Linked DNA regions of Homo sapiens. The protein of the gene in region 2 interacts with the protein of the main gene of each other region in a biochemical or structural test. Each region holds a gene or a part of one and is shown on either strand. Other genes may lie near its edges. The genes, in order: ITGB5, SPP1, ITGB1 and ITGAV.

Region 1 (7,026 bases), on a different chromosome or scaffold from region 2:
TGGTGGTGGTGGTGGAGCAAGCCATGGCACTGGCCTCCAGAACTTGCTGCTTACCTCTTAGGGCCCTGAAGCTTCTCAGGATTAGCAGAGGTTGACTCACATCTGTGTCATTTCTCCTAGTTTTTCAGTGTTGCTGAATTAACTTCAACATTCTTTTTTTTTTTCTTTTTTTTTTTTGCTTCCCTTCCCTTCTTTGTTTTCTTGAAGCACTACAGGTACTTTATTCAGGGAGTGTTTCTGTCTTGCCACTAGGAACATTATTTGAAAGAAAAAAACCTAGTTACTCAGAGAAAAGAAAGAGATGACCCTCAGGGCCATGCCTGCCTGGGTGTTCCTGGACCAGTGGTTGAGTGCCTCTCTCTGTTGCTCTAACCCCACTTTCATCTCAGTACGGATTTCCAGCAGGAAACTGACCTTAGGTTTCAGGGGCTCATTTCAAACAAGTCCCTGGCCGGCTGACAACCCCCTCCCGTCCCCACCAAGGGCTATCTCCTGCTCTTTTTATTATCTTATGGCCAAGAGCCTTCAGACAGAATCCTAGGATGTGGTCTTCCCACAAAACCAGGGGTCTCACTGAGGTGAGGCTTTTCCACGCTGCCTTTGCTAAGACAGAGAGAGGAACACCGTCTTATAAAGAGGATCCTGCAACACCGCTGGAATTATGTGTGCTATCACATTCATTTCTTTTTAAAAAAGCAATCGAATGTTCTTCTAGTGAATGCTCTGCACATCCTAAGAAAGCCCTTTGTTTTATTTAGTGGACTCATGTTGGCAGCACCCTTCCTCTACCCCCAACCCCCTACCACATTTCCTGTGGTCTGTGATGGGGTTGTTGGAATTTGGCTGGGTCTGCAGCTCTCTGTAGGTAACCAGGCACAGGTTTAGAGCTGACAGGACAATGAAATACAAACAGTGGGTTTGGTCTGTAGACTGCTGTTTATCCTATGGATTTACATTTTAACTCCATCATCCTTGAGTTGGGGGAGCTTTTTATAAAGGGGATTGAGGCAGAAGAGGGCAGGGTCTAATTAGCTCTAATTAGTATTCCCCGCCTGCTTGTTCTCCATGCTTATTTAGCTACTGAGGCAACGGGGAATTAAAATATCTAAGTAGTTTGGCAAAAGGCCTTTTGTGCCTGCGTGGCCTGGTAACTACTTTTTCTTATTCAGCCTGGCCATGGAAATATTCTGAGATGCTTTAACGATATCAGTAATGTGGGACAATTACAAACTACTTAAATAATAGGGCCCCTTTCACATGGCAGTGTGCAGCTGGGTTAATGGGATAGGGTCTCTTTTCACAGGTATTTCCAGTTGGCTGGAGCCGAGGGCCTTGGAGAACTGACTGCCGTGGTTTGTTTTCCTTCTTTCCGGTTCGAATGGGATTAATGGCCTCTATAAATGTAAAGGAATGCTTTATTTAGAGGCACCCATTTGTTTCTGAGGCTTCTTGCTTCCGTTGAATGCAGGGTTTACTTCCCGGGCCTCATGGTGAAAAGTTTGCTCTAAGACAGGCTTGACTCATCCCCTAAGGCTGATGCTTTGAAGGCACTGCGGGGTACCCTGCCCTCTCTTTATAGGATTCCCTCCCCAACTCCAGCCAGACATTTTCAGAGCTGGTTGTCTCTTGTAGAGCTGGGACCTACTTCTGCAACTTGTTCTCTTTAGTTATTCTCAACTGTCCCTCAGAGTGATCCTGAGATCCAACTCAAGTCAGATCATATCTCTCTGCTTAAAACCTTCGAATGGTTTCCCAGAGTCCTGCCAGGCTCCACGAACTCTCCACCTACTTCTCTGACTTTCCTTCACCACTTTCCCTTCGATCCTTTGCTCCAGCAGCATGGGCCTCCCACTGTCCCTTCAGCGTGCCAGCCATGCTCCCATGGCAGCCCTTCTCCCTGCCTGGAATACTGTCCTCCAAGATATCTGCATGACCGGCTTCCTCCACCCTGCAACCCTTTTTCTAGCATCTCCTGCTCAGCCAAGTTTTCCCTGGCCGCTCCCAGCTAAAGCTGCAACCTCCTCCCTATATCCCGAGTTCTTTTTATCTGCTTTTCTTCTTTAATTTTTGTCCTTAGCACTCACCACCATCTAATGTAACTACATATCTTCTTCACTATTTCCCCTAAGTAGAATTCTCCCCCAGCCAGGATGTGAGCTCCGTGAATAAGGGAGTCTTGTTGGTTTTATTCATCTCTGTATCCTCCATGCCTACAACAGCACCAGGCACATATTTGTTGAATGAATAATGGATGAACCTGAATCTTGGTAATTGGGAGGTGAAGAGGGCGATGCATCCCGTCCTCAACTCCCTGTTGCCTTCCACAGCTAGCTTTGAAGTCAGGGACTATGCATGCGGCTTGTTAGGAAGAAACATCCTGGGAGAAAGAGATTCTGTTGGAATGTGTCAGGATTTTTTTTTTAATTGGAGTCTCACTCTGTTGCCCAGGCTGGAGTGCAGTGGTGCAATCTCTGGTCACCGCAACCTCTGCCTCCCAGGTTCAAGCGATTCTCCTGCCTCAGCCTCCCGAGTAGCTGGGATTACAGGCGTACACCACCGCACCTGGCTTATTTTTTAATTTTTAGTAGAGATGGGGTTTCACCATGTTGGCCAGGCTGGTCTTGAACTCCTGACCTCAGGTGATCTGCCCACCTTGGCCTCCCAAAGTGCTGGGATTACAGGCATGAGCCACCACTCCTGGCTTTGTGTTAGGATTTTTTGAGCTGGTATGGAGGCCATTTGGTCTACTCCCTGAGTTGTTTGCATGAGGAAGCTGAGGCCTGGAAAGGTTAAGTGACTTGCCCTAGGTCACATAACCAATAAGTGACAGAACAAGTCCTCTGATCTTTTATACCCAGTATATCCTGTTCTCCTTCCCTACATCCCTGGGTGGAGCAGAACTATCTCCTCCTCCTCCTGCTTTCATGGCCCATTCCATTAGAGAGACTGGGGGCTGCAGCTGGTCTGTCTCACCTGCTACCTGGTTAATAGCCCTGGTCTTATTTACCTGTGTCCCTGACACAGCCACAATGCTTGGTACTCAGATGATCCCTTCTCTCACCCCAGGATTTTAATGGGCTTAGAAAAACTTTATTTAAAAGATTTGGCCAGGCAGGGTGGCTCACACCTATCATCCCAGCACTTTGGGAGGCCGAGGCAGGCAGATTACCTGAGGTCAGGAGTTCGAGACCACCCTGGCCAACATGGCAAAATCCAGTCTCTACTAAAAATACAAAAATTAGCCAGGCATGGTGGTGTGCACCTGTAATCCCAGCTACTCAGGAGGCTGAGGCAGGAGGATCGCTTGAACTTTGGAGGCCGAGGTTGCAGTGAGCTGAGATCACACCACCGTACTCTAGCCTGGGAGACAGAGACTCTGTCTCAAACAAACAAACAAACAAACAAACTTTTACATATGTACTTTTTCTTTTCTTTTTCCCTTTCTTTTTTATTTTATTTTGAGATGGAGTCTCACTCTGTTGCCCAGGCTGGAGTACAGTGGTGTGATCTTGACTCACTGCAACCTCTGCCTCCTAGGTTCAAGCCATTCTCATGCCTCAGCCTTCCAAGTAGCTGGGATCACAGGCACGTGCCACCATGCCTGGCTAATTTTTTGTATTTTTAGTAAAGATAGGGTTTCACGATGTAGGCCAGGTTGGTCTTGAACTCCTGACCTCAGGTGATCTGCCTGCCTCAGCCTCCCAGAGTGTTGGGATTACAGGCATGAGCCACTGTGCCCGGTGTCTCTTTTATTTATTTATTTATTTTTTAAAAAAAGACAGAATCTCGCTCTGTCACCCAAGTTGGAGTGCATTAGCGTGATCATGGCCCACTGTAGCTTGAACTCCTGGGCTCAACTGCTCCTCCCACCTGGTCCTTGCAAATTGTTGGGATCACAGAAGTGAGCCAGTGTGCCTGGCCCTTAAAAAAGCCTTCAAAGAATTTAGAGCAGTTTTAGATTTCCAGAAAAATTGAGAAGATAGTGCAAAGAGTTCCCATCTACCTCACACCCAGTTTTGCCTATTATTAACATCTTACATTAGTATGGTACCTTTATTATAATTAATGAACCATATTGATATGTTATTATTAACTAAAGTCCATCAGTTTAGATTTCTTTAGTGTTTACCTAAGTCCTTTTTCTGTTCTAGGATCCCATCCAAGATACCACAATACATTGAGTTGTCATGTCACCTTGGGTTCCCATGGCTGTGACAGTTTCTCAGTCTTTTCCTTGTTTTTTATGACCTTGACAGTTTTAAGAAGCACTGGTCAGATATTTTGTAGATCATCCCCCTCTTGGGATTTTCTGATTTTTTCCCGTGATTAGACAGAGTTAGGTGATTTTGGAAGAAGAACATAGAGGTAATCAATTGCCTCTTTAAAAAAATACCTTTTGATAGGTAATATAGTCCCATAATTTTTAAAAGTATAACTCATATCAAGCGAGAAGCCTCTCTTTCTTGTTGCCCATCAGTGTGGGATATTTCTGTGACCCCCTTTTCTAAATAAATTGTGCCTATATAGTTCCTATTATAAAGCTAATAAGCTTTCTTATGTATCCTGAGGGTTTCTATGGATATGTTACGAATATCCCTCTTTCATTTTTATTCAGAGGCAGCACAAAACACAGTATGTATCTTGCTTTTTATTTTTAACTTAGCGATGTATTGGGGTAAGCTTCCTGTCAATACAGAGAGCATGCTCATTCTTTCTTTATAGCTGTCTAGCACTCCATTATATGAATTGGTGTTTTAAAAATAGAAGTCAGATCTGTAAGGCTGGTATTGTTGAGTGTTGTGCAGATGTCTGATGTTCATAAAGGCAGTCTTGAATGAGAACTGCTGGGATAGAACCTTCCTAGGGCATATTTGCATTTCATGGTAACATTTAGACATATGGCTATTTAGTTGCTGGAGTCTATACTGGGACTCTTTTGTCCATTGTGTGACAAATGTGAGGGCCTGGTTCAGGGTGTGGGGAGAAGCATTCCAGGGCATTGCCATCTTCAAGGCAGAAAGGCCATTTCAGCTTCTGTATTCACTTCTGTTATCCTACTGAATATTTTGGATCAGGAAATTCCAACTGCAGATGTATGTTTTAGTAGTAGTTGTCTGACCTTGGACCCATGGGGTGTACAGAAGTGGAGAGAGGCTGAATGGAAGGAGGCCAGCCAGGAGGCTATGGCAGGAATTTAGACCAGAGGGCCTGGCTTGGGTTGTTGGGGCTAGAGGTTGCAGACAGGAAGGGTTGGCTTAGGATAAACATTTCTTGCATCTTGAAAGGAGTGATCAACCGGATGCGGTGGCTCCTTGAATGATTGATGAAACACAGGGGTGAGTCAGTGAATTTTGGAAGAACATATTTTTAGATTACAGTTTGCAGTAAACACTGGGCTTCAGAGACGTGAGGCAAAAGAGATACATGGAGTTGCCACCGAGCTGGGAATAGTCACTATGCAAACAGCAAAGAAGATGAGATGTGGCTATCATCTGGGCTGCTAGTTCCTGTTTCCATGACCTAGACCTAACACTGACATTTGTGAACTCCGTGTGTTTAGTTTTTTATTCATTGCTTCCTTCCTTTTCAAAATGCTTATTGGTGCCAAATGACTCATCCAGCAAAGTCCAAACTCTGAAATATTAATAGGTGGAGAGAGGAGAGATGCCAAAGGGAGTGAGTCTGACATTACACATACCAGCACACAGCCTGTGGTTTTGGATCCTGGAGTACCTGTCTGGTACCTGGTACCCGGCACACTGTGAGTTCCTGGACATCAAGGGCTGGTAGGTCATTCACCTGTGCATTTCTAGCATCCCCCCAGTCCAGTGCTCAGCGTTTAGGGTGTGTTAAGTGCAGAGTTTCTTGAATTTGAATGTGTCCCAACAGCAACTGAATTTTAGGGCAATCATTTTGAGTACAAACGACTTTACTTTTCCATGTGAATATTTAATAATAACAGAAACAGTTAGTAATGCTATATGACAAATTGTTTTACAGTTGTTCATGATGTTTTCATACCAGGTGACTATCACATCCTTTGAGTTTCTTTGGTATTGTGTCCAATTAAGTAAGGGCTTTTAGGCTGGTGGACCAGAAGACCAGAGCTCAGTCTGATCTGCATCAGAATTGAGGAGCTCTTATTGTCCTGAGCCCTGGACCTCCAGCCCAAGTTCCCAGAGCTCATGATGAGGCTCTGGTAATTATAAAGTGTTGTTTGCAAATGTATGTGGCTTTGAAGCTGGATACGGTGGCTCACGTCTATAATCCCAGCACTTTGGGAGGCTGAAGTGGGCAGATCACTTGAAGTCAGGAGTCGAAGTCAGAAGACCAGCCTGTCCAACATGCTGAAACCCTATCTCTATTAAAAATACAAAAATTAGCCAGGCGTGATGGCATATGCCTGTAATCTCAGCTATTCAGGAGGCTGAGGCAGGAGAATCACTTGAACTTGGGAAGCAAGGTTGCAGTGAGCCAAGATCATGCCCCTGCAGTCCAGCTTGGGCAACAAAGCAAGACTCTGTCTAAAAAAAAAAATTATGTGGCTTTGATCAGAGTCCTACGTGAGGCCTTTGACCTCAAATTCCTTTCTGATAAAGGGGCTGTTACAGATCTCCAGAGGACCCTAGAGCTCAGCAGGTCACACCAGCCCTACATCCAAGATGGCAGAGGGACCACCAGGCAGGTATCCCATGTGGGCACTTGCTGGTCAGGACCCCGTCTGACCTCTTTTTTGTAGATAGGGCTCCTTGTTTCAAGTCACATACTCTCATTATCTTACATTTTCATCTATAAAAAGAGGCAACTTGACTAGCTCATCTTAAAACAATCCTAGCCCCAAGGTGCTATAATCTCATGATTTTATGAAAATGATTTTATATATCAAAGAAAAGGATATGCCACAACGAGCCTGAGTTTGTATTTGATAAGGTTGAGGAGAGGAGGAGCAAAGTTACTTTCATTCTAGATTTATTTTTTTTCCCCTGCAGATAGTGATTGCTGACAGGTACGGGGATTTGACCAAAA
Region 2 (7,966 bases):
GCCAGACCCCAGAGGACCTCATGTTATGTAAGAAATAGCAATCACCTGGGCAGTCCTTTTTAGGCACAGGAAGCATGCCTGAAGTTCTCAGGTGTAATTCACTCAAGCGGAACACTATCTATATTGGAATCTGAAGACGTTTAATTCAGGAGGCCGGGAGCGGTGGTTGATGCCTGTAATCCCAGCACTTTGGGAGGCTGAGGTGGGCCAATCACTCAAGGCCAGGAGTTTGAGACCACCCTGGCCAACATGATAAAATTTCATCTCTACTAAAAAAAAAAAAAAAAAAAAATTAGCTGGGCATGGTGGTGCATGCCTGTAATCCCAGCTACTTGGAAGGCTGAGGCACAAGAATCGCTTGAACCCAGGAGGCAGAGGTTGCAGTGAGCCGAGATCGTGCCACTGCACTTCAGCCTGGGTGACAGAGTGAGACACTGTCTCAAAAATAAATAAATATGTTTAATCTGGGGCTTTATGAAGGCAACAGAAAATAATCAGCAAGAATAACTCAATTTATGTAAGAACTATATACATGTCATAATTGAGCTAAATTTCTTCACTGAATAAATATTTTTGGCACATAATCTGCAGAGGGATTAGCATATCATGGAACTTACACTCTATGAGGAATTCAAACATTAAAGAAGAAATCAAATTTTAATATAGAATATTTTAAATTACAGGTTTAAGAAACATAAATGTTATGCTATGGGATAGGGGCATTAATGTAAACTATGCCTTGACAAGAATTGTCGAAACAAAAAACCTTAGCCAAGTGTAACCAGAAAAATATCTGACTGAGCTGCTTTTGTTGTCTAGTTTTACTCCCCTTTCTTTTGATTTTGTTTTCTCTTTTGCACTGAAATTGTCACCTTTTCATATCAACCTTATGATAGATTCTCTACCAAAAATTACTCAAACATCAGATTTTAAGCAAGAATTCTCATAAACCAATTTCGGAGAATGATTTTCTCCCCTCAAATATATCTGCAAAATGACTGTCACTGACCGCTTATTGCCACAAAATGTCTTTTTCTGAACAAACAAGGTCCTCCTGCAGCTGCTAGACTTTCTATTTGTGCTTTTCCACCTTGTTCTATCTCCCTCTTTGGATCCTCTCTGATTACAGCCTCCTCTATTGTTCCCCAGGTTGTTATAGGTCTCGAGTTTATGCTGCTGTGGTTGATGTTGAGTGGGAAGGGGGACTTTCTGTTTGGATCCAATCCCAGAATACCCATCCCTTCAACTCCAATGTGGACACAGGGTCTCTACCATATACCTTCTCTACCCAGGGTGCTGCCAAGTTTACTGTTTAGCCACACCCCCTTAATCTCATTGGTTACTCAAGTTTCAAATTTCCTAGTTGATTTTCATGAACAAATGGGCTCCATGAGGGTAAGAATGGTGTCATTTAAGAAAAAAAAGTTAGTAATTTAAGTCTACCTTAAAAAAGTCTATCATTTAAAGAGCATTAGAATGTCCTCAGAGTTACTAATACTACTTTAATGAAGAAATAAATGCTAGATTCTTGAGTACAGGCAGATATTAGATATCAATATATGAGATATACTCTGAATTCAAGCATAGTGCCTATGCATTGTATTCATAAGCAAAAACTATAAGGTCAGAATTCGTGTCATAGATGCAGGGCTGAGTGGGCAATCACCAACAATTTATTGAGCACTTACTCCATAACAGTTCTATGTGTCTAAAGGAAAACTTTTTTTTATTTGTTTTAAATTGAAACTAATGTTTACCAATGGTACGACCACTTTGTCAGGAGCTGACTTTTGTTGTCTAAGCTATTGAGCAATGGAATAAAAGAGTTTATGGTGTTTTTGTTTTTTTTTTTTTGTATTTCTGAAATGCTCTAATTTCATGTCTGAACTTGAAAATAGCACCCTCTTATCATCCACCTTTGCTTGCTACCCTGTGATAAATAATGCCCCTTTTCCCAGTCTATATATGATGAATGGTGCTAGGCTTCCGATTAGCTTTAATTCCAAACTTCTTTATGACAGATTAGTGGTGTTACCAAAATATCAGAGTCATGTCTGAACCTTGACTCAAGGGAAAAAAATAATTACCTGTGGAGCTGAAAACACTGAAATAGTTGGTTACACTTTACTAAGTAAAATATAATTAGAAATGTTCAAATAAACTGGAAGTGAGTTTAATAAAGTTGTCCACCAAAGTAGTGACATTGAACACTTACTTTTTATTATATGGGAATTTTCATGTAATTCAGGAAAAAGACCTTAAGGCTCTTTATTTGTTTCCATGTGTCCTCTTAGTGTGTATAATTTAAGATCACAAATTACTCTTTGCATTCTAGTTTGACAACTAAACTTTTTTTACTTTCCACTCACAAGATTTATAGGGAATTTGTGCATTTTGACCTTTTGATTCTAACAACCAATCATTAGCCAATCAAGAATGGAAACTTTGGAAATATTACAGATAGAGCCACTGTGATTTAAATCATTTAACATGTTAATTCTGACAGAAAATCCTACTCAGAAAAAACAACCAGCAGCAGCATGTTTGAGTGCAAACAGCAAGAAACATCCCAAAACATGACCTCCCCGATAGTCAGAATGACGCAGCATCCATTTCCTACTTTACAGAATTGCCTCCCATTATAAATCACTTTATCTTCTCAACTCCAAAGCATCCCAGACACATTCTTTACCCGTGAATTCACAAGCCTTTTCTCTGAGAGAGGCCTTGGGACTAGGAACTTTTTGAATGAGTGTAGAAGTCGGGAAGGAGACAATAGTGTCAACTTGGGATTGCCTAAGGCAACAACAGAGCAAAACAAGAACGCTTTGGTTCTCTGGGTCTCTGTCCCTGATTGCATAGCGGGTCATTGTTGGGAAATATTTCCTCACCTGGCATTCCAAGAAATGGAGAGCTCCACAGCTGTATATAGTCCTGTCATTAAATACAGGAGTGTTCTATCCCGCTGGAATTAAGAAAATTGGTAGAACCAGATTGTGGTCTGAAATCTTTTTTCAGAAATGCTGCCATCGTGTGGCACTGCGGAGCTATGACCAGAAGAGTCCTGTAAAGGGTCGTATGGTTCATCTCAAGATGGCTGGGCTCCAGCATAATCTATTCCTATAATTAATTCTAGCTTCATATTGAATCATTCCCGTGGGCACAGAGTAAACTACAGTAAATCCTGTGGAAATTTTGTTGTTTTTAGAATTTTCAGACTTCCCTCCACTAAATTGACAACATGACACGCTTATGCGGGTATGTTTAAAGGAAAAAAATAGTTTTTAGAAGCAGAAAAAAGAAGTCTATTTTGCAACTTTATAATCTGTGTGCTTTCTATTTTATAGAGATAGTCGTCATCTTACTTATTAAAATGGGTGCTTATTACCTACAAACCAATCATATCAATTCATCTGGAATACATCCAATTTAAGGGAGACATATTTCCCCCTACCAAATGTTCATGAAACCTATGAATTAGCTATACACTATCACTGCAAGACATTATTTAATCTATATTTATATTAAAAGTAATATTTGGCAAAAGGAAGCTGACACTTTAGGACTAATAAAAACCACAATTACTTTTGCAGCAACCTAATAATAAATAGGACCATTTATTTTTCATCTCAATTACACACAAGTCTTAACAATAAAGGTGTAAGGTAAATAAATAGTGCAATCTGCATTTCACAACTGAGAAAGCAAATGAAGATAAGTAATCTCAAGGCAATATTAAATATTTTAAAAGGACCCAGAGCTCTGCTATCCCTGAATTCTGCTCTAATATTCGGACTTTCCCTGTAATTTTCTTTCATTCAGACACCTTTTAAATACCTAGTAAAGTGTTTTTTAATACAGAAATTTTTAAAAATGTTTTTCTTTTTAAGTGGCCTACTTTACATACCTTGGGAGAAAAACTAGAAAAAAAGATGATTCCAAAATCGAATCTGTTCCTTTAGAAATGTGCAAAATTTCCTTATTGATGCATACAATTTAAAGATCTTACGTCTACTCTCATTTTAATAACCTGTTCTTTTAAAGGACATTACAATTCGTGACTGCCTGCCCCTCTTAAAAATTTCATAATAGTTAACACACATATAGTCCTTAAGATACGCAGAGCATTTGCATCTAATATGTGCTAAGCATTGCTAGTTTAACATACTAATTCATTTAAACCCCTCAAAAACCCCATGACCTAGGTAATAGTATTGCATTTCATGGATGAGGGAACAAGGATAGGTAGGCTGGGCGATTTGCCCAAGGTTGCACAGGTCAGCAGTGACACAGCGGAATTCAGAACCACGGTCTGGCTCCTGAAGCAGCCCTCTCAAGCAGTCATCCTGCTCTCAGTCAGAAACTGCTTTACTTCTGCAACATCTAGAATAAATTACCATTCTTCTATTTCATATAGAATTTTATATTTTAATGTCACTAGTGCCATTTGTCTAAGTAACAAGCTACTGCATACTCGAAATCACAAAGCTAAGCTTGAGTAGTAAAGGACAGAGGCAAGTTTTCTGAACTCCTTGCAGGCTTGAACAATAGCCTTCTGGCTCTTCAATAAGTACAATCATACAGGCAAGAGTGGTTGCAGATATTACCTTTATGTTACTTAAACCGAAAGAAACAAAAATCCATTCTATTTAATTTTACATTAATGTTTTTCCCTACTTTCTCCCTTTTTCATGGGATCCCTAAGTGCTCTTCCTGGATGCTGAATGCCCATCCCGTAAATGAAAAAGCTAGTTAATGATATTGTACATAAGTAATGTTTTAACTGTAGATTGTGTGTGTGCGTTTTTGTTTTTTTTTGTTTTAACCACAAAACCAGAGGGGGAAGTGTGGGAGCAGGTGGGCTGGGCAGTGGCAGAAAACCTCATGACACAATCTCTCCGCCTCCCTGTGTTGGTGGAGGATGTCTGCAGCAGCATTTAAATTCTGGGAGGGCTTGGTTGTCAGCAGCAGCAGGAGGAGGCAGAGCACAGCATCGTCGGGACCAGACTCGTCTCAGGCCAGTTGCAGCCTTCTCAGCCAAACGCCGACCAAGGTACAGCTTCAGTTTGCTACTGGGTTGTGCATTCAGCTGAATTTCATGGGGAAGTCCAAATTCTAAGGAAAAATATTTTTAATTGTAATGCTGTTAAACAGACTTAAATTTTCTAGCCTTTTTAATAAGCAGATTAGATACATTGCAGGTCTCCTGGAACAAAGGTGTCTAGATATTTTGAATGCCAATCAAATTTAAAACTTAAAAATACTTCCACTGGGTCCTCAAAAGAACGGAAACCACCGATGCTAATCAGAAAATAGTAAAATTAAATTCCCCTTTGGAATAATTATACCTATATAATTTTCAGTGGGTGACTGTGCAGGAATTTAAAAGAAAAGGGATCTTTTATGCTAATTAAACCAATTACAATGCTATTTTTTAAATGATGTATCTCACTTTTAAGGGGAAGAAAACCCTTTCTGAATATGCCACTGCTAAATTTAGCTGTTAAAATATTCACCAAGATACCTGTATGACACTGTGTAGGCTTATTATTACAAATAGAAAAGCTGTTGGCTATTTTCAATGTTTTCCTTTGAATTTCAAATTTTTAGAACATCTTACTTAAATAACAAATTTCAGAGATAGTTTGATTTCACCTAAGTAGCACCTACTTGATAATTAAGCTAAAAGTCACATTTAAAGTACATGTTGGAAAAATGGATAAAGCAAATTTTTTTCATTTTTTTCTGTGAGTTTTTTCTTCTCTAAAAAATATTCCCATACTAGCTTATTAATATAATTAAGTTACTGTTGATCTGTTTGTAGGTTTAGAGAGCTAGATATATAAGGTAGTAATGGTATAATTTCTGGAACTCTAAATTTTAAAGTTGAATAAATACAGACTTGCAAAATTTCCCTTTCCCTTGCCTAATAGTGAAAGATGGATAATAGGTGGCAATATAAATATTAACTTGAAAGACTATAATACTAAAAAGAAAAGGCATCTCTAAGAAGTAGAAAAGATTCTATAGAAAATATATTTTATTTGTGATCATTTTGTAATGTGGTAGTATAAAAAGGTATCACTGTTGTAACCTATGAAGATGTCAGCTATTCCTTATGAAATATTTTGCAGGAAAACTCACTACCATGAGAATTGCAGTGATTTGCTTTTGCCTCCTAGGCATCACCTGTGCCATACCAGTGAGTACAGTTGCATCTTAAAGAAAATTCCTGAAAATAACTGAATTGTGTGCTTCCATGTGCTAGGAGGACATTCTTGTAATCTTTCTTCATCTTTTCTGTTTCTAAGGTTAAACAGGCTGATTCTGGAAGTTCTGAGGAAAAGCAGGTAAGCATCTTTTATGTTTTTATATAGTTAAATCATTTACTCAATTATGGCGAGAGGTGCAAGAAACGTATTTGCTGCGATATTACTTATCTTCTCAGTCAAATCCATTGGTTTACAAGTATTGATTGACTGCCTGCTATGAATCTAGGCCAGTACCAAGCACAGTATAGTTTTTAATAAATATAAGTTTATAAAACCAACCCAGATATTTTAAATATAATAATATCTAGGCATGTATGATGAGTTATCGCATGTAAGATAAGTTATATGAAGTTGTGTGACTTTTTTTCCATTAGTCCACATACTGATCTAAAAGCAGAAAATTCCAGCTTTTGCTTTGTTTAGTGGATTGCTAAGTTTAAAATTCACATTGGATATTAGTCAGAACTGTTTGTATGACCATAATATTCACAATATTGTCTGAGATATTAGCTGAGAAGCCCATTGTGAAAAGAAAGTCTATGTGTGCTGTTTGTATCTATTGTGATTGTCAGCTGATGTTAGATCACATTTTCTAACCAAACATAAGACCAACCAAACTCTTTATTATAATTATTTGACCAGCACTAAAGATGTACCTACCCCTCCACAACAGATGAAACTGTGCCAGCCAAACAACAAATGGGCATTGTCCCCAGAAGCTTGGACAAAAAGGCACACAGAGTTCAATTCCAGTTGAACAGAATAAAGGCCAAAATAGAGCTGCCTTGGGGGTCACTGCAATTAGACTGCTTAATGAAGACATTAAAAGAAGTATTCTGTGTTCGTTTGTGTGTGGAGGGGTGTGTGTGTCTGTTTTTCAACTGATTTGAAAATACAGGTGTTGAATCCTAATAATAAACCAGAAAAATTAACATCTCCAGAGAAGATAGAGGTCATACTATTTGAGGCAAGAATTAGCGTCTTTTTAATAAACGAAAATATGGCAAAGATGCATTTTAGAAGGCACGTGGAGCTATAACAATTTAAGAAATACGTGAAGAGCTCAAGGCTCAGCCTTCTAGAATCCCAGAAACTTAAAGCTAGTAAAAAATTGGGGAAGTCTCTAAGGATATATGCCTGAAAATACACACTGGTTATCTGTGAGTGTTAGGATTACTGGGTGGTTTTTAGTCTATTCATTTTGCTTACCTTTATTTTCTTCATATTAGTTTTTAAAAATTATAAATGTAACTTATACATCCATTCTCTCTGAGCCTGTATTACATGTGTCATGAGAATAGATAGATAGATATGAAAAAGTGAAGAGAAAAACTCTGAACTCATCTGGTCTCACTGTTTTTCCGCCTTCTTTTTTTTTTTTTTTTTTTTTTTTTGAGACGGAGTCTCGCTCCGTCGCCCAGGCTGGAGTGCAGTGGTGTGATCTCGGCTCACTGCAAGCTCCGCCTCCCAGGTTCACCCCATTCTCCTGAGTAGCTGGGACTACAGGCGCCCGCCACCACGCCCGGATAATTTTTTGTATTTTTAGTAGAGACGGGGTTTCACCGTGTTAGCCAGGATGGTCTCCATCTCCTGACCTCGTGATCCACCCTCCTTGGCCTCCCAAAGTGCTGGGATTACAGGCGTGAGCCACTGCGCCCGGCTGTTTTTTCATCTTCTTAAAGCAAGGAACCCCT
Region 3 (7,026 bases), on a different chromosome or scaffold from region 2:
TGACTTGGTTTTAGGTTCTGAGAGTTTGGCTGGTTATTTTTTCAGAGGTGGGAGGTATGGAGTAGAGACGTTAAGATACAGAAAGGTACATTCGTCTTCTGAATCCTGAAGTGTTATGCTAGAGGTATCTATAGCTGTGGAAAACTGAAAAGATATTATGGTATGTACCCAGCTTAAAGGGGGTACAGTCCGTAAAAGTCAGAATATTAGCAGCCTTCCAATATGTCTGTCGGTAGGTGAAAAAAAAAGTTTCTCTCTTTCAGGAGCTGTGTACAAAAGGATCCAAACTATACTTTGTACATTTGTTATTGTTTTAAAAGTGGCTGTGAGTTTTTAGAGGTCAGCTAACTTTAAACTTGCCGTTTGGTTTGTGACTTTAGAAGGTAGAGTTAACTATATTTAGCAATATGCTTAAGCGTGTGCATATCACCTCATGAAACGTGTGTGTGCATGAGAAAAGCTGCCTCCAGTACACATACATATGTATATACACACATACACACAAGCACATATATGTATGTATTTCTTATAGGACCAATCTCATTGTACATAATTTCAAAGCACAGGTTCCTATCTCCAGGGATGCATAAAAAGACTCACTGAAGTATAGGGAGAAAATTTTAGGTCTACTATTATGTTTGTTGATCTCATCACTTTAAAATTTAAAATTTTGATTATGATTGATAATCTTACTATATTGCTGTAGAAGTACATGTATCTGAATTTATAAATTGCATTTATTTTGGGTACAGGTATGCCTAGAATTTTTTTGCTGATAAAGGTGAGTGGTCAGAAAGCTTTGCAGATCCCTATATGGAGGATGATTTGAGTGGGGTTCAAGAACTACTGTATTTGGGAGGGAGAACTGATAAGACTTGATAAGAGAAATAAAAGAAACCCAGTGTGACACTGGTTTCTGGCTAGGAGGTGCTGTTCACTGAGGTGAGAGGGTGACCACAAGCTGGGGGTGCTGGTTGGCTGGAGCAGAGGGGAAATGATGACCTTATGAGGCCAAGTTTTTTTTTTTAAGGTGACCATGGGACATAGGTGGAGATGTCTAAATTGCAGTTGAATACACAGATTGAGAGCTTAAAAAAAGAAAAAACTCTGAGAGATTTCAATTTGACAATTCTTAGTCTATTGCTGGTTGAAGCTATAGGCTGTGCATGCAAACACCAAAGGAGGGTGTGGAGTGAAAAACGGGCTGAAGGAGGACCTGGGAACACTTTTAATAGTCAAGGGGGGGTGGAGGAAGAGGAATCTAGAAAAGCATTTACCTTCCCCAGTTTCTTCTCTGAACTTCTAATTCCTTTGAGTGGCATTTTTGTGAGTGACATAGGTATTTCTGGGTTTTTCCAGTGATTGGCATGTTTGAGTTAAAGACAGAAAGACTTCATTGGTCACATTTCTTTGTGGTAATTTATTTTCAGATACCTGATCAGAGAAGCAGTTTGATGTACTAAAGGCTTCTCGATTGGGAGACAGGAAACCTGGGTGTCAGTGCCGGGTCTGCCACTGAATTTCTGTGTGACCTTTGTCAGAGTACTGTACTTCCAGAGCGTTGGTTTCCACATCTACCCTATAAAGCAGCCTGCATGTTTCTCTCATTCTCTCGTTCGAGGAGTTGGAGGATAGCTGCTGCCTGATGTAAGTAGAGTGCAGTTCTCTCTCCATGAGCAACTTTTTTTTTTTTTGTATCACCAGAGAGTGTAGGCACTGTGCCACTTACTCTGTTAAGGATACCTGCCAGCGCTGACCAGCAACATCTGTCCCTGTCAGCTCTGCATCAGGATGTAGCTTGGCTGTACATTACATTTTATTCTATCAGTACATTGAGTACCAGTTACCTGAAAAATGCTTTACTCAGTGGACATGAATCAAGAAGTTGGCATGCTCTTTGATGTTGAGTCTGTTGTCTAATTGGAACAAGTTGTGTTCAGTTCAGGAAAACATAAATACCAAAGAGTGTTTTATACAATGTACTGTACCATAAAATACTGTACCATGTAATATTCCCTAACAATGTTAGAAAAATCTCAGCATTGGCTTGTGTGGTTTTGGAACACGTTGTGTAGGAGATGAGGCCTGAGCTTGGAATGGTATGAGCGAAGGTTGGATGACAGATGGTTGTCACATTCAAGGACAGCATGGGAAGAATCCAATCTAATTTCACAGATAGTACCTGGCCACTTTGTTACCTATTAGGAGTTATGTATAATATCATATATATCAGAAGGATATGTGAAGGCTATATAAAATGAAGGCCTGGGTTCTTGCCCTCCAATACTAGCCTGATGAGAGACACAGACATGAATACAATTAGTTACAATAGAAGTTTGAATAGAAATAACACTATATTATTAAGCATCACTGAAGATTTGTCATTCACTCTGCTGGGCACTATCAAAGCTGTTTTGGAACCACAGAGAAGGAGTAGTTAATTAAGTTGATTGTGGTTGGTGAGGAGATGAAGAGGCAATAAAGACAGAAAGGAAGAAGAAAAATCAGCATTCTATTTTGTGTAGGGAGTATAGTTTCAGTGGAGTGATGAGGAAAATATTTACATACGAAATTAGGTATGTACCATTTGGAGTATGGAAGTCACATTTTTCTGTATAAATGTTTATTGAATGAATATGTAAATAACTTAAGCTTTCGTAATCTATGAAATTAGCAATAGATTATTCTTCTCCATGTACAATATTTTATGGTTTATGTATGATTTTCTTCATATTATGATTTCAGTGCTTCTTTTAAAGGGGTGGTACAGGGTCATGTTTATTGGAGGAGGAAATTGGAGTTTGAAAAAGCACATTTGGTAGTATAATGTTATGTTAGAAAAATGTTACAAAAAAGTACAATAGGGAGTAAGATTTATGCTTATTAAAGAAGCATGGATTAAAAAGATTGAGAAACATTTATTAAAGAGTCACTGAGGTTCTTGTTTTAGAAGGCCATGATTAATGAGTTGGAGAACAAGAAGCAAATTTGGTAATCATGTAAATTATGAGCTGCTGACCACCTAGAAATATATTTGCTGATAAGAGCTTTCATATAATGATCATATTTTATCTTTCCAACAATTAGATACTGTTTACAGCTTACTGATGTGTAAAATGAGAAACTTTTTTTCCTATGTTTATCATGGTTTTAAAACATTTATCATGTATTTAAAATACTGTATGCACTCCACCACAGACAGGATGGAGAGGAAGATGTGACAAAAGATGTGGTCAAAATTAGTTTTAATCAAGGAAGCATTTTGGAATGATCTGCTTAAAAAGTGGATATAATTACGCAGTTTGAGAAGATAATTCTCCTTAATTGAAATTACGGGGAATAAGTCTTGCTCTCAGGTGCTTATTGATACCGTTGATCATGCTGGTTCTTTTGCTGGCTCCACTCACAATTATCTTTGACAACTTGCCCCAAAGTAAACTTTCTCAACCAAAACCGTTCCCAACTTCTTTCCTCCTCACAGGGAAAGGCAAAAAAGTCCGCAGGCATAGAGAGTGGAAAGAAGGAACAGCATACTAGGCTGGTTTGAAAAACAATCAATTGCTAGGTAATAATGTCTTACCTTTTGAGTGGAAGGAGGAGCTGGGAAGAATTAAGTTCGGGCAGGTTTTTTGCTCATTTTGGATCAGCCCTTCATATTATGGCTTAATAGCTTTGTTTATAGTGTATTTTTCTGCTTTTACGTTCATCCTCTGAAGTCTTGAGTTAATTTTGTGCCCCTTTACCCCCATTTGAATTAAATGCTTCATTTTTTTCCCGTTTCTCACATAAAGCTATTTTTTTTTCAGGACAGGGAGGGGCTGGTGGTGGTGGTGGTGCTGTACCAGTTGTCTGTTTATGAGATCACCATTAGACAACGTTTCTCATTGGCTTGAATTATTTGAATTTTGTGTGATTTTCCTGTTATGTTGATTCTGTTCTTGGTGTCTATGAGTTCTGTAGAGGATTCCAGCCTAAATTTTCTTCCTTAGTTCTGTTTACTTTTCCTCGACTTTTGTGGTTTTGCTCTTTGATCACTGTCAAGATCTATTTGAGATTTTCTGACTTTCTTGAAGAGCAGAATGAGATCTAGATTTTCTCTTATTTTTAAAGAAGATTCTTCACTGACTTCCTTTCACTTTTTGTTCTGTGGAAGTCTTTCCTAGGTGTTAAGTTTCCAGGCTTTACCTCCCCCTACCCCCAACGTATTATCTTTAGGCATTTTGTTTGCCAATGCGTACTATATCCATTATTTATCTTTCCCTTGCACTTGTAGATTGGGTGGTGATAAAAATCTTCCATATTTCATTTTCCTGGAGAAGGCGGGTAGAGTCACTAGTGATGAATTTTATCTTCAATCTGTTGTATAATTTTCTTAAAGTATCTCGCCGTGTTGTGAGCTGTTCTCAGATTTCAAATTGTTTTGTGAACCTATAGCTTTGGAGCAGCCAAACCTTTGTTGTTAGAGCTTCTTAGCCCAGGCTATCATTATCATTGTGTGAGAAGGGGTTAGTGCTCTTTAAAAAGCCATTTTTCTTCTGGGTGGGAGTGGTGAATTTTAGATGGTTTTCTAATTCAGACTACTTTTCTGTTTGTCAAGGAGAGGAGAAGAGGACTTCAAATGTGGTGTTACATCTTTGGGATCCCTTAGCCTCTTCTCTTTCATGTCTCCTTTTTTTTCTTCTCTATTCTTTCTGCGAAGTTTTGTTAATCATTAATGCTAGCTTATTAATATTTGGGCCATAAACACCTCTGTAGTGACCAACACACCTCTTCCTGCCAGATGGAAGGAAAAAAAGTGTTGAGTTTTAATTGTTCTTCCTGTAAGGGGAAAGGTTCCCTTTCCATGGGAGGAACTCATCTCCACATGTCACCCTCTCAGATGGTACAGAATTCAGAAAGATTTCTCAGTTTCTTCCATTCATGTTTTTCTCGTTTTTATTACTCTCTATGTGGGATAAGTGGGAGGAACCTCATGTCTTTCAATTTGGCTCTGTGTTCTTCTTCTGGAATATATTGATTTTTAAATACTAAAATCTGTTATTGGCCTATTTCTTCCCCTTTTAAAAGCAGATACAGAAAATAATGATGGTAGAACAGACTTGGGATGAATCCAAGTTTATTATAATTTTTAGGAGACATTTATGATATACCTCTATAGGTATCAGAATCTTTTCTACTATTAAGGTGAAAAGATTTGAGATTTTGTGAAATCTTTTGTGTATTCTTTTTATTTGAGTTGGCTTTTAGGTGGCTTATTTTTCAACTCTGAAATGAACATAACATGTTACATATGTTACATATGTTACAATTTTTTTCTAAAGTGTAGTTGTTTAATTTCTACAAAGATAGTCCATATAAAGTTTCTAAAGATTGTAAATTTAAAAGGAAATGCCAAATGAATTATTTGTAAAATTGTTTAAAAAAATTAATAAATAATGAGTGTGTATTTAAAAGTTTGAACATGATATAAAACCATACTTTTATGGATAAAGATTAGTTTACAGTGAAGATTAAAACAATTATGCACTATTTTTGACAGTGGAAACAATTGCACATATTTGGGTTAACCACTAAAATGAGATTATTTGTGGGTGGTGTTTAAGATTGTTTATTGTTCAGGGAATGAATTATGACCCCTTAGATAAAATTTCATATGGTAAAAAATGACCTTAAGGTGAAATGCTTTTATAGGAACAAGACACAAAACCTTTGTCTGTACTTATGAAATATGGCAATTAAAATAACTTTTCTTGGCCTCTATTAAGTTCAAATGCCCAAGAAATAAACTCATAGAACATTATAAGCCCTTTCCATTTCTGTGCCCTGAGTCAGTTCTAACACTAGAAGGATGTTCTTTGTTTTAAAATAGTGATTAAGTAGGCTTTGAAAAAATTACAGTTTAATGAAGTCAGGTCATAGCTTCTGGATACAGATGGTCAGGTTTCAATTCCACCTGTGCAACTTTTGATTCCACCATTGCAAGTTGTTTAGTCTCTCTGGTTTTGTTTCCTCATCTGTAAAACAAAGACACTATTATTCTTCACCTCATTGAGTTACCTGGAGGAGATAGATGCTATTATTTTATCATTATTATTATCATATCCATTTGAAGGTGCTGAAATAAAATTCTAATTTTTTAAAGTTCTAAATGAAATAACTTTTTGTTACAAATTACTTTAAATCATCAAAACTTAGTGTATTATACTCTTCTTCTTGCCTGTGCCTAGTCTGGCCCTCTCAATTGAGAAGTCAGTCTTTTTTTTTTTTTCAGTAATCCACAGTGAGCAGCAGTCCCTGAACGAAATCATATTGCTAGTTGGGTTTGATTAATAAAACACAGAATTGGTATTCTAGTCCTTTCAGGGGGGTTTGCTTCCTTGTGATGTAAGAACCTTGTCTTAGTCTTTGTGCTGCTATAACAGAATGCCACAGACTGGGTAATTTATGTCAGGGTTCTGGGGGCTGGGAAGTCCATTATCAAGGGGTTGGCATCTAATGTCTTTCTGTTGCATCATCCCATGGTAGAAGGTGGAAGGGCAAGAGAGTGAGAGAAGAGAAGGAGGCCAAACTCCGTCTTTTATCTGGAACCCATTCTCCACTCCTGTGGTAATAGCATTAATCCATTCATGTGGGCAGAGCCCTCATGACCTTATCACCTCTTAAAAGTCCCACCTCTCATCACTGTTGCTTTGGGGATTAAGTTTCCAACACGTGAACCTTGGGGACACGTTCAAAGCATAGCAAACCTCAAAGCTTCCTCCTTATTTCTGTTTGTATTAGGTATGTTATTCCCTCCCCTCAATCTTTTTTTAAGGGTTTCTGTGATATCAGTGTTCAGAGCATTTGTATTTTGTCTACTATGTTTTTATGATATTAGTGTTCAGAGCATTTGTATTTTGTCTAACATTTACTACCTTAAATATTTTGTCAGTATAAAATATTTAAGGTTTTGCTGCTTTTATTACTTTATGAACACATTTGTCAGGAATCTGATTGTTAGAAAGCACATTAAATAGAATTCTACTT
Region 4 (7,019 bases), on a different chromosome or scaffold from region 2:
TGGTAATACCAAATAACAATAAATCCAACTGGTAATATTGGAAATGGCATCCCAAGTACCTTGGATTCCAATGCTTGTTAAATTTAAAGTGCCCTTCTAGAAAATTCAGCAAAATTTTACATAAATTTTTGTTAAATCTGAAAAGCTCAGTAAGTAAAAACCTGTGTTTATATACGTTTTGTTTAAAAAGAAAAAAGAAAAAAATTCAAGGTTGGTTTCCATTTTTTAAGTTACCTATACCTAGAGCTCTGTAGTCTATCGGTAACAAAGTTGCTGATGAATATTTCAAAATATTATATGCAACCAAACCCAAGTTCAATTTTACTTTATCATTAAAGGTCTATGAGTGAAGTCATGTAAACCTGTGAGGTCATAACACATTCATTGATTATAATGACTGGCCAAAGATTAGTCACCCTGGTTTGTAATCAGCAGTAGCAAATATCATGAAGAGTTCAACATCACTGCATTTTTCATGGAAAAAAAAAAAACACTTAAAGTTTATCAGCCTCTCATTTATCTTACACTAAACTCAGAGCACTGCTGAAGAATTAACAGTAACATTGTAAAACACTGCCATCAACTTTATTTTGTTGTTGTTATTGTTTGTTGTTTTTGATTTTGTTTTTGTTTCTGAGACAGTCTCTCTCTATCGCCCAGGCCACAGTGTGGTGGCACAATCTCCATTCACTGCAACCTCAACTTTCCAAGCAATCCTCTCATCTCAGCCTCCCGCAGAGCGAGGATTACAGGTGTGCACCACCATGCCCGGTTAATTTTTGTATTTTTTTGTAGTGACAGGGTTTCACCATGTTGCCCAGGTTGGTCTCAAATTCCTGAGCTCAGACAATCTGCCCATCTTGGCCTCCCAAGGTGCTGGGATTACAGGTGTGAGCCACTGTGCCTGGCCTGAAGTATTTAAATGCTAATTTTTGACTGAAGACATATATTTTCAAAATCATTAGAATTTCTCTACAAATTATATCTCACATTGAACCCTTGGGAGCAACTAAAATGTTCTGTCTCATGAAGGTATACACTTGAAAGTATCTGGAAACAAAAATGTTTAAAGATAACGTTTGGTATTCACCCCTGTGGTTAAAAACAATAAATAAAAAGATAATGCTGACTAAAATGACTAAATGGAATGTGAAATTGGTAAATGTTGCCTAAATAATGATTATTTTTATCATGTTGGAAAATCTGTGCTCCAGGTCTCACAGAAAGCACTGTAACTGCTAACAACAAATAAAACTAAGCTTGCTACATAAAATAATGTCTCCACTAACAAAGTTTCCATTAACTGCATCTAATCTATGTATTGCTGCAAAGGTTGTTACCAAAATGAATGATACTCAGTAACATTCAGAAAAACACTAAGACTAAATTCTGCTGAGTGTCCTAACAGTCATAGAAAACCATTGAGACCACCCTCAAATTAGGCATGTGTGTAGTAGAAGATGGTCCTATCCACGTACTAACCGTCAAAATTTTCCTCCACTTCACCCCGAAGGGATATCTTATACAGAAAATATGGAAACAAAAATATGTTGTTACAAGGTCTAAGCGTTTAGAAGGCACCCTAAGAACAGTTTCTCTCTTGAAAACAAGATTTAAACATCATTAAAAAAACAGTCAACATTCATTAAAACAGTACTCCTAACGCTAACATGGGGGTGGGGTGGTGAGAATGATGTCAGCATTCAGTAAAGTCGGAGACAATTTCTAACACAATAATGGCAATAACTGTTATAAATCCTGACGGCCCTTGCAACGCGGAACGTTGGCAACTTGAAAACATAACTGAATTATTAAATACTGCAGTATTCAAATGACCTGCAGCGAGTGAAAACTCAGCAAACACCCTTGTTCCTTCTGAACAATGACCTAAATAGTGAATCACTATAAAAAGAACAGATGACACATTCAATTCATCTGTTCAACCTCAAATGTGCAAATGTCTGACAGTCCCAGAGATAAGACACAATGAATTCAATAGGACAGTATGGTCATTTTAAGTCATCAGAATGTCTGCAAAAGGAGTAAGGAGAAACAGAATCAGACAGAGGCGGAAAGAGTGGGGGAGGGCTTGTTTAGGGAGACTGAAAAGGACGGGCGTTAAGCCTGTAAAGCAGAAAAAGGCTACCAAGAAGCCTAACTGGTAGAGGAGAAAAAGAAGTTCGGGGATGATATTGACCAAATCCTCGACACTGGCACAGGAGGCGGGGAGTCCGGCAAGACCAGCCTTTGTTGATTTCCCACTTTCCCCGATTTTTAAGCACAGGTCTGCTTCAAAGCTCTCCCGCTGCCCCTAACCAATTTTAAGAGGTGAGAAGCGGGGTGTAACTGGGTGATGGGTACCAAAGGGAGTTCATTTCCCCAAATATTTCCTCCACCCAGGATATAAACCACTCTGAGAGGTAGGATGGGTGAGACAGACAGACGCCGGGATCTCTCGGAAATCAATCCCAATGGAGAAACGCTGGGTGGGTGCGCGCGGTGGGGGAGGGGGCCGGCTCCAGTTCCAAGTGCGGCCACTTACGAAGACGCGCTGGGCACGAAGAAATCCACGGCGAAGCCGAAGTAACTTCCCTCGGGGCCAGAGTACTCGGCAGGACTGTCCACGTCTAGGTTGAAGGCGCGGCACAGAGGTAGCAGGAGTCCCGAGAGAAGAAGCGGGAGGCCGCGGGGACCGAGGCGCAGCCGTCGCCGCGGCGGAAAAGCCATCGCCGAAGTGCGCGCGGGACGCCAAGCCGGGAGCGGTAGCCACCTCCCCCCGCCCCAGCGAGGCGCCCAGTGCCCGCGGCCCGCCGCCTGCGCGCGCCCAAACTTGCCGGCCGCTCTCTTCTCGGCTAGCCCGGGACAGCTCCGGGGCAGGCAAGAGGGCTGAGCTTCGGAGCGACCGCCAGGGACGAGGGGCGCAGAGCGCGCGGGGCGGGGACAGCAGCGCAGACGGTCCTTTGCTTCCCTCCGGCTCCGCCGCTCCACGCAGCGTCTGAGGCTGGGGACTGCCGGGGTGAGCGCCGCACCTCAGGCCTGAGAGCCGCGGCGGCACTGGGAGGAGACCTGGAAGGAGGAGGAGCCGGCCCGGGAGGCTGCTGTGGAGCTGGAGGAGGAAGTGGGGGAGGAGAGGCGCCCTTCTACAGGGGAGAGCTCAGCGTACTTCCGTGAGTGCAGTCGCCGCCTGTCCCGAGACCTGGGCGTCTGTGCAGGGGCCCCCAGCTCCTGAGCCTGGGTCAGCGGCAGCGCTCCTGGACGAAGGCCTCAGGCTGAGCACCTGAGGAGGCGTGGGGGCGGGGGCGGGGAGATACGGTCCAGCGTCCCAATCTACCCGCGTCCACGGGAGTAGCAAGGGCACCCACGTTCCCTTGTCCCGCCGGGAACTTCCGTGCGACTGTTGTTTAAAAATGAGGAAAGCTTTTTATCAGTTTCTCGTGTTTCTGCTGCTTAGCCTGGCAGGCTCTCACGAACGAAACCCTGTTAATTAATGGTCGTTAATTACACTCCATTCCACAAACACTGAACTTAATTACGGATTTCCAGAAAGCCAGCATAGCCTCTTGCAAGTGAGGTATGTAAAGCTTAACTTAGTAGTCAAAGAAAGGATTCGCAGGGCAAAGAATTGGCAGTGATCGTTTTAAATCAAGTCAGAATAATCGAAGCCTTATTCCCAGTTTGTTAGCTGCGGTTGTATGATTTAGAAACACTGATTTGTTGATTTAGGATGTTTGGATAGACATAATTTCAGAGCTGGAAGAAGGACCGCACACCGGTGAAATAAGGCCCCGCGTGCTTGTTTGCCACTGGTGTGTTTCATCAAGCCTTGACAACACTGGACTGAGAGAGAGGGCCTTGAGGACAGGAACCTTGACCTTTTTCTTAGTGTTCTTATTTCTAGCACCTTGCCAAGCAGATAGTAGTCGATCAATAAAATGTCCAATCAGTGAATGAATAGCAGACGAAATGAGCAAAGTGCCCAGAGAAGTGACTCTTCCATATTTCAAGTGTTTCATGTGCTACAGAATCTGTTGAACAAGGTGAAGTTTAAGTGCATTGTGTGGACTTACAACTTACAAGTAAGTACTGGAACAGTAATTTCTGTTTTCCCAAAGTAACTATTAAAACTCAATCATAATATACATTAATAACTATCAAATAATCCTGTGAAAGGATATGTATATAAATGAAAGTGAAATGCCTAATTCGAATTTGTAATATTTATTGGACCAGGTCCAGGTGCTCATGCTGGCAATCTCAGCACTTTGGGAGACTGAGGCAGGAGGATTGCTTGAGACCGGGAGTTCCAGGGGAACATAGGGAGACCTCATCTCTACAAAAATTTAAAAATTAGCTGGGAGTGTGGTGCATGCCTGTAGTCCCAGCTATGCCGGAGGCTAAGGCAGGTAGATAGATCGCTTAGGCTCAGGAGTTCCAGGTTATGATAAGTCATGAGCCTGCCACTGCACTCCAGCCTGAGTGACAGAACAAGACCCTGTGTTTAAAAAAAAAAAAGGCCGGGCGAGGTGGCTCATGCCTGTAGTCCTAGCACTTTGGGAGGCTGAGGCCGGCAAATTGCCTGAGCTCGGGAGTTCGAGACCAGCCTGGGCAACACAGTGAAATCCCGTCTCTACTAAAATACAAAAAATTAGCCGGGCGTGGCGGCATGCGCCTGCAGTCCCAGCTACTCAGGAGGCTGAGGCAGGAGAATTGCTTGAACCCGGAAGGCGGAGGCTGCAGTAAGCTGAGATGGTGCCACTGCACTCCAGCCTGGGCCACAGAGTGAGACTCCATCTCAAAAAAAAAATGCATTAAATATTTCCATTTTTAAATTTGACTAAAAGATATGCAGCAAAACCTTTGGCATGTTTTACAAGGCATGGTCTAGCATCTGCCTGAAAGAAATTACTGATTGAGAGAAGAAATCCTACACAAATCCTTACACATAAATGCAAATACAGCTTATTTCTCACCTTCTTTCCTAATACACCAAAGAGGCTATTGATATGTATGCATAAACCCAAAGGGTCTTTTATATCTTAAAAACATGACAACCAGTCTACCTGGAAATCCATCCAGGTAAGGAAGACAGAAGAGTTTAAACTCTGGCTAGATCCAGTAAGTCTCCCACTCCTCAACTTCTGATCGCAGGACAGGGGTCCGACAGACCAAGGTGGAGTGAAGAAATGTGAGAGGACCAGGGAAAAGAAGAAGCCCACGAAATGACAACACATGTACACCCACCAAAACTTGGGTGAACAACACACCCCCAAATAGGGCTACAACTTACTGAAAGCACTTACTGTTGAGCCATTCTTTATGAGTTTATTTTGAATGAGCAGTCTTGAAAATCAAGGAATTTGTTTTTTTTAAAAAAGCAAATAGTCCAGGCACTGTGGCTCATGCCTGTAATCCCAGCATTTTGGGAGGCCGAGGTGGGTGGATCACCTGAGGTCAGGAGTTCAAGACCAGCCTGGCCAACACAGTGAAACCCCGTCTCTACTAAAAATACAAAAATTGGCCGGGCGCAGTGGCTCACTCACACCTGTAATCCCAGCACTTTGGGAGTCCAAAGTGGGTGGATCACGATGTCAGGAGTTCAAGACCAGCCTGGCCAAGATGGTGAAAGCCTATCTCTACTAAAAATACAAAAATTAGCTGGGTGCAGTGGCAGGCACCTGTAATCCCAGCTACTTGGGAGGCTGAGGCAGGAGAATCACTTGAACCTGGGAAGCAGAGGTTTCAGTGAGCCAAGATCGTGCCACTGCACTTCAGCCTGGATGACAGAATGAGACTCCATCTCAAAAAAGAAAAAACAGTAGCCAGGCATGGTGGTGTGTGCCTGTAATCTCAGCTACTCAGGAGACTGAGGCAGGAGAATTGCTTGAACCCGGAAGGCAGAGGCTACAGTGAGCCGAGATATTGTGGTATTGTGGGCCACTGTGCTCCAGCCTGGGTGACAGAGCGAGACTGTCTAACAACAAAAAAAAGCAAACATACATTTCAATTAGGAAACTATGAAGCAGACTAACCCAGTGGCTTTAGAAACTTGGGGTTATAAATGCAGGCATCTCTTTGTGTGACCATGCTCGAGCAGCCACTCACACAGTGCCTTGCAAATTGTATTGTAGAACATGTCAATTCAGCTAGTGCTGATTCAAAATCCACATTGCACCTGGTACTATGTGCATGGGACAGAGAAAAGAATGTTTTAGTCTACGAAAGAATGGTGGTGCCCCTCCCCTACCCCCATGACACTACTCTTTGAACTACATTATAACAGTTTTCCAACTTAAAAGGAGAACTTCTGTGTATACATTAAGTATTCATTGAATATAATCCTTTTCTTAGAAAATAAAATATTAGATAGTAAAAAGAATTTGTACTTTGAATTTTATCCTCTACTACCCTATACTTTAGTAAAAATCTTGATTCCAGTGGTTTCTGTAAAATAAAGCACCTGGGTTCCATTCCTGGCTTTGCCAACTACTAGTTGTATGACCCTGGGGAAATCAATCCAACCAATCTGTGCCTCAGTTTTCTTATCTATGAAAGGGAAAGGGGAGTAATACTATGTCTATCTCTTAGAATTGAACAGTTCTTGTTGCCATTAATACTTTTAAGACTAATAGTTTAGCATGGTAGCAATAATAAATTTTTTTTTTTGAAACAAAGTGTCACTCTGTCACCAGGCTGGAGTGCAGTGGCGCCATGTCAGCTCACTGCAACCTCCGCGTCCTGGGTTCAAGCAATTCTCCTGCCGTAAATTTTTATGACTATTATTTCACTCTCTTAGTTCCCCTAGTGTCTGTCCAACAGGTCCTTCAATAACCATAATCAAACCAGGGCTTCACGCAGCTCTGTCTCTGCAAACAAAGGAACTTAGTCCATAATTTAAGAGGAATTTCAAATTTTATCTCTCTCAAAGAACCTCAAAGGAGATTCAGTTAATAACCCATGGGAACTTCAGAAATCTGCTTCTTCTACTCTCAATTTCTCTGGAGACTTTAACCCACTAAACC

Evidence for each region.
Region 1: the proteins of SPP1 (region 2) and ITGB5 form a complex in vitro, tested with the Homo sapiens proteins (one study listed by BioGRID).
Region 3: the proteins of SPP1 (region 2) and ITGB1 form a complex in vitro, tested with the Homo sapiens proteins (one study listed by BioGRID).
Region 4: the proteins of SPP1 (region 2) and ITGAV form a complex in vitro, tested with the Homo sapiens proteins (one study listed by BioGRID).

What each region holds. Positions count from the first base shown.
Region 1 is NC_000003.12:124,877,363-124,884,388, reverse strand, and holds part of ITGB5 (integrin beta-5 isoform a precursor), read left to right. Parts: intron 1-2,528; exon of another isoform or gene 2,529-2,546; intron 2,547-5,699; exon of another isoform or gene 5,700-5,786; intron 5,787-7,026.
Region 2 is NC_000004.12:87,970,748-87,978,713, forward strand, and holds the start of SPP1 (osteopontin isoform OPN-a precursor), read left to right. Parts: upstream 1-4,966; 5' UTR 4,967-5,053; intron 5,054-6,134; 5' UTR 6,135-6,148; coding exon 6,149-6,202; intron 6,203-6,311; coding exon 6,312-6,350; intron 6,351-6,914; exon of another isoform or gene 6,915-6,971; coding exon of another isoform or gene 6,972-7,103; intron 7,104-7,966. UniProt on the Homo sapiens protein: Major non-collagenous bone protein that binds tightly to hydroxyapatite. Appears to form an integral part of the mineralized matrix. Probably important to cell-matrix interaction.
Region 3 is NC_000010.11:32,948,214-32,955,239, reverse strand, and holds part of ITGB1 (integrin beta-1 isoform 1A precursor), read left to right. Parts: intron 1-7,026.
Region 4 is NC_000002.12:186,586,047-186,593,065, reverse strand, and holds the start of ITGAV (integrin alpha-V isoform 1 preproprotein), read right to left. Parts: upstream 3,011-7,019; 5' UTR 2,728-3,010; coding exon 2,543-2,727; intron 1-2,542.